Linked DNA regions of Homo sapiens: region 2 is linked to region 1. The links come from fine-mapping of genetic effects on gene expression. A gene starts in region 1. The other region holds a variant in brackets. All regions are shown on one strand. Distances are between the middles of the regions.

Region 1 (2,887 bases):
CTGCACAGCCCTAAATCCCCTAAACCTTGAGTCAATACAGCACATGTTTCTGTGGGCACAGGGATGGGGCTAAGGTTACAGGTTACCAGCACAGGCCTAGATGCCTTAAACCTTGATTCCATACAGCATATGTTTCTGTGGGCACAGGGATGTGGGCAGGGGACTGTGGCCACCCTCACCCCTGGCAGAGCCATGCTGGGTAGCCCCATGCCCACCCTTCCCGGCTTGGGAGGCCCTGGCTGCTGCCCAGAGGGGCATCAATGCCTGGGCCGTGGACAAGAGGGAAAGTGGCTTCCTTGGAAACCCTGCTCCTGGAGCCCTCCCTGAGGCTCTGGCCCCTCTGTGGGCCCAGCCAAGCCTGGAGCGTCTCCAGGCTCTGGTGTGCTTGGGGAGCTGGCCAGCTCTCGGCCTAGCTGGCGTCTCCAGAGCTGCGGTCCTGGGTGAGGGTTGCTGGTGGAGTTCTGGCCACCTAAGGCACCCGAGGGAGCCAAAGGAGCAGAGGTGTGGGGTGGGGGACGCCGTGGGGTACCTCCACATCCAAGGAGGTCTGCTGTTTGTCCTCACCCCCGTCCTGCGGGGGCCCCGGCAGGCAGCCCCAGGAACTGCGTAGGGATGGGACAGGGCCCAGATGTGAGGGCCGTGGTGGGGACGGTGTGTGGCCCTGGATGACCTCGTGTTGCAGTGTGACGTGATGGTCACTGCCACCATGCTGAGGGCCCCAGCCACCAGTCACCCACCATGGGGGGTGCCTCTGTGTGAGGCACGGGAGGGCCATGGCGTGAGGGGCTGTGGAAGTGGCCGGTCTTCTCCGCTCAGCCCCACACAGGATGGGCAGGGCAGGGTCATGCTGGCCGAGGGTAGTCTTGGGAGAAGGACAGGGTAACTCTCTGTAGCTGAGCCCCTGCTGCCCCTGCACCTGTTCTGGGCCTGGCTAGCGGCCCATGTACATCCCCAGCAGGACTCCACGTAGCTAGTCTGGCACCCACCACTACGGCCCCCTCACCCACTCCCTGAACTGGACGCTGGGGAAAGGTGACTTCTTCCATCCTCTGGGTGCTCCCCAGGGAGGAGGCCCCAGCTCCCAGCAGAGGCCTCTGGTCCCCCCTTGTCCCTGCAGGGCTGTGTGGGCACACTGGGTGCCAGTCGGAAGGGCAGGTGGCGATTCCCAGCTCTTGGGAGCTACCCGGCCACATCCCGGCCCTGCCCAGACGCTCCAGGGGCACCCCACACTCCTGCCCGCTGCGAGGCCCCGCCCCGCCAAGCCCAGCCCGTTATCGCTTGGACAAACCCTGGGTTGCTTTCTTCGGGGGGCCAGCACTCTGTTTGGGACCCTCTCCCTCCCGCCCTTAGGGCAGCAGAACGGCCCCCACTCTCCCGGCCCTGCCTTGGAGTGGGGCACCTGCCAGGAGCAAGTGCTGGGGAGGCTTGGCGGGCGCAGCAGGGACTCGCCCTAGCGCAGCTCCGGATGGGGCCGCGGTAGGAGGACGAGCCAGTGGGGCGGGAGGCCGCGGAGATGGCCCGGGGGCCCTCTGCTTCCCCGCGCCGTGCCCGGGAAGGACCCCTGGGCAGCGGCCGCGGGGCGCGGGGTGTTGGGGGGCACAGCCCCGGCGCGGCGCTGAAGCAGCGACGGTCTCCGTGGGGACCGCGGGCGCCCGAAACACGTGGGGCCTGGAGGGAGGAGCGCGCCCTGGCGGCCCCGTGACCCCGCCCACGTGACGGGCGCCCGCGGAAGGCGACATGGGCTCCGCTCCCTGGGCCCCGGTCCTGCTGCTGGCGCTCGGGCTGCGCGGCCTCCAGGCGGGGGGTGAGTGGCGGCGCCCCCCGGCCCATTCCCCGGTCCCGGCCCCGCCTCTGAGGTTCGCGTCCCCCCACAGCCCGCAGGGCCCCGGACCCCGGCTTCCAGGAGCGCTTCTTCCAGCAGCGTCTGGACCACTTCAACTTCGAGCGCTTCGGCAACAAGACCTTCCCTCAGCGCTTCCTGGTGTCGGGTGAGACCCCGGCCCCGGCCCGGCCGCCCCCGCCGTCCCGCCGCCCCCCGGCACCCTCGCCTCATCCGCCCTCCCCACAGACAGGTTCTGGGTCCGGGGCGAGGGGCCCATCTTCTTCTACACTGGGAACGAGGGCGACGTGTGGGCCTTCGCCAACAACTCGGCCTTCGTCGCGGAGCTGGCGGCCGAGCGGGGGGCTCTACTGGTCTTCGCGGAGCACGTGGGTGCCGGGCGGGGTCGCGGGCGGGGTCGCGGGGCACGTGGGTGCCGGGCGGGGTCGCGGGCGGGGGTCGCGGGGCACGCGGGTGCCGGGCGGGGTCGCGGGCGGGGGTCGCGGGGCACGCGGGTGCCGGGCGGGGTCGCGGGCGGGGGTCGCGGGGCACGCGGGTGCCGGGCGGGGTCGCGGGGCCGGGCTCAATGGCACGTTCCCCCAGCGCTACTACGGGAAGTCGCTGCCGTTCGGTGCGCAGTCCACGCAGCGCGGGCACACGGAGCTGCTGACGGTGGAGCAGGCCCTGGCCGACTTCGCAGAGCTGCTCCGCGCGCTACGACGCGACCTCGGGGCCCAGGATGCCCCCGCCATCGCCTTCGGTGGAAGGTGGGCGCCTCCCCCGGCCTCCGCACCCCCTCCCTCCCCTGCCCCGACCCAGCGCCCCCAGCCCTTCTCCCCACTCCCCTCTGACTCCCACCGCTGCCTTTTCGTAAGGCCTCAGGCAGTGGTTCCAGGCTTAGTGTTGCCTCCCCCAGGAAGCCCTCCCACCTGTCCTCCCAGCCACCTGCTCAGCTTGGATGTGCGGCCACACTAGCGGCCTTTCCCAGTGAGAGCTGCACCCGCACCTGGCCCAGGGTTGGAATTTGTGGGTCTCAGAAGTGTCGTCCTCCTTGTGGCACCTGTGGGC
Region 2 (2,887 bases), 44 kb after region 1:
GAGAAAGCTGTCCCCTGTGTTTTATCTAACTAGGCTTCAGGGGGAAGGGGACTGGGGCCAGAGCAGAGTTCTGAAGGATGTAGTGCGGTCAGCCTGGAGCAGAGGGGAAGGGCCTTCCTGGTAGAAGAGCCACCAGGCACAGGGGCCTGGAAGTGAGGGAGTGCAGGGACCCCAGGCCTGGCACTGGCGGTGAGGGGTGTGCTGGAAGCAGGGTAGGTGTGGGGATGGGGGGGCGGGGGCTTGCGTGTTGTGCTGGTTTGTTTTGTTTTGTTTTGTTTTTGAGACAAGATCTCGCTCTGTCACCCAGGATGGAGAGCAGTGGCTCAATCACAGCTCACTGCAGCCTCAACCTCTTGGGTTCAAGGGATCCTCCCACCTCAGCCTCCCAAATACCTGGGACCACAGGCATGCACCACCACGCCTGGCTAATTTTTTAAACTTTTTGTAGAAATAGGGTTGCCTTATGTTGCCCAGGCTGGTCTTGAACTCCCCAGCTCAAGTGATCCTCCCGCCTCGGCCTCGTGCTGGGTTTTTGAGCAGACCAGCCATTAAAGGGGAAGCTGGCTTACAGGACCAAGCTCTGATGGGCTGCTCCAGGCTCAGAGCTTCTTATGTCCTTCCAGCATTCCCTACGATGAAGGAGTCCCACTTAGAGTGAGTGACCCAGAAGAGAAGTGGACCCAGGATACTCCCTGGCCTGGGAAGATGCCTCTACAGCTTGAGACACAGGCACCAGTGGCTCAGGCCTGAGGACAGAGACCCAGGTAGGTATGCCAGCTGAGGCCTGCCCAGGAGGGAGGGTGGGAGACCCGCAGAGGGCCAAGGCAAGTCTCGGATTGGGGGCCTGTCTGGGGAGGGTGTTTGCACCCTGAACACCTCCCTGGAACCTAGAGGGTACTACTGGCCAGCCCTGAGATGGGCTCCCAGGGCTAGAACCCAGGCTAAGGCCTGGTCTCACCTCCCATGTGGACAGACCAAATGAAGACAGAGTGACCAGATCCCAGCTGGAAACACAGCAGAGGCAGGGGGACAGGGCTGCGGGAGCCAGGAGAGCAGCTGGAGGAGGTGTCCAGCCAGGGGAAGGAGGAGAGGAGAGCAAGAGGCAGAGGGAGCTGGTCACTAGATGGGGATCTGGGGACACAGGAGAAAGTGGCTTTGTTCTGCAGCAGGCAGGCCAGGCCAGACTGTCCCGAGGGACCAGAGGAGGAGCCAGCAGCAGTGGGGACAGAAAGGCCTCTGTGAGTGGGAAGCGCCCAGCTGGCTGGAGCCTACGATCCTCTTGGGGCCCTCCTGGTGGAAGAGAAGGGGGCCGCAGGGTCACCTGTGCTTGCGGCCAGGGAACTAGAGGGGAAAAGTGGGATCTTTGGAGGGGGTGCCCCCCCCC[A/CA]TTCTTACCCCACGAGGCTACCTGGAGACAGGTTTTTTTGTAGGGTGCCAGGCCCCGCCCCTTGGAGAGGTGGCCGGGGCAGCCAGCCACAGCTGGATCCGAGAAAGCGCCTGGCCGCGGCAGGAGGTTTGGTGGGGCTGGGGCGGGGCAGAAAGGAAGGTCTGCGAGGCCAGAGTGGAGCAGGAGCTGGGGGATCCGGTTCCGCCTGCCCAGGGCCTCCGCGCGCCTCCCAGGGCCACTCGGCAAGAAAAAAAAAAAAAAAATCAAACCTCCTCTCAGCCTATCAGAGAGCAGATGGGACGGGCTCGGCCAATGGCCGCGGCGCATGTTAATGAGGGCTGACGCCGCGAGGAGGGCCCCATTCAAAAGTAGTCGCTATTGTCGCCGTGGGCTGAGCTCGCCGGGCCGGCCCCTCCGTGGGGCCGCGCTGGGACGCACGCGGGTGGACGAGGGGACCGATCCCGGGCGCCCATGGCCGGGGCCGCCATGGCCGAGCGGGGCCGCGTGCCTCCCCCCGCACCCGCGCCCAGCACGGAGGGGCTGCCGCGCGCCTTCCTGCAGAGCCTGCGCACCCTGTTCGACATCCTGGACGACCGGCGGCGCGGCTGCGTGCACCTGCGCGAGATCGAGTCCCGCTGGCAGGGCACCGACGCGCGGGAGCTGCCCCGCGGGGTGCTGGAGGGCTTGCGCCAGGTGGCCCCGGCCAGCGGCTACCTGACCTTCGAGCGCTTCGTGGCCGGCCTGCGCACCTCCCTGCTGAGCGCCGACGGCGGCCCCCGGGACCCCACGCGCGCCCCGGCCCGGCCCGGGGATCAGCCGCCGCCGCCGCCGCAGCGCCTGGTGTTCGCTCCGGCCGACGAGCCGCGGACGGTCCTGGAGAGGAAGCCCCTGCCCCTGGGCGTGCGCGCCCCTCTGGCCGGTCCCAGCGCCGCCGCCCGCAGCCCGGAGCAGCTGTGCGCCCCGGCTGAGGCGGCGCCCTGCCCCGCGGAGCCCGAGCGGTCCCAGAGCGCGGCGCTGGAACCGAGCTCCAGCGCGGACGCAGGTGAGTTCCGGACGGCCCCCGGGCACCCTCGTAGCTCTCCCGGGCCCGGGCCAGAAACCGCAGTCCCACAGCTGCTGCCCGTGCATTTCCCACAAGGGACGGGACCGGGGAGCGGCTCTTCGTGGACTCCGGATCCTGGAGGGCGCCTCGGCGGGTCTGGAGGGAAAGGGCTTCATGCTTGTCGCGGTGAGCCCAGGGGCTTGCTTAGGGAGGCAAGCCAGACCCTCTCCTGCCACAGCATAAGGCCACCAGGGCCGGGGGGTGGCAGGTGACTCAGAAAACCCACCGGGAGCCCAACCTGTACCAAGCCTGAGCTTGGGCTCTCCATCTCCAATACCCTTTCCGCACCTGGGGACACCTGGGCCCTCAGCCTCCTGTCTGTGGCTGCTCAGGCAGAAGTGCTTCCTTCTCAAAGAAAGGGTCCCCCTTCTCAGTGTGACAGCTTAGCCAGGGGGGCTGGG

Evidence for each region. PIP is the estimated chance that this variant, and not a neighbour inherited with it, causes the effect.
Region 2: its variant is fine-mapped to the expression of DPP7 in whole blood (INTERVAL, PIP above 0.99).

The regions. Positions count from the first base shown.
Region 1 is chr9:137,113,564-137,116,450 of GRCh38, reverse strand. DPP7 (dipeptidyl peptidase 7) reads left to right here and starts at 1,718. Exons shown (of 13, transcript NM_013379.3): 1 at 1,718-1,804; 2 at 1,875-1,988; 3 at 2,069-2,208; 4 at 2,423-2,586. The coding sequence starts at 1,738. LOC124902314 (a long non-coding RNA gene) reads right to left here and starts at 1,652. Exons shown (of 2, transcript XR_007061874.1): 1 at 1-1,652. RefSeq lists silencers at 1,493-1,842, 1,873-2,022.
Region 2 is chr9:137,069,429-137,072,315 of GRCh38, reverse strand. SAPCD2 (suppressor APC domain containing 2) reads left to right here and starts at 1,759. Exons shown (of 6, transcript NM_178448.4): 1 at 1,759-2,426. The coding sequence starts at 1,856. RefSeq lists an enhancer at 618-1,597 and silencers at 1,702-2,111, 2,282-2,331, 2,382-2,431. The variant A/CA (reference allele first, on the strand shown) is at 1,385.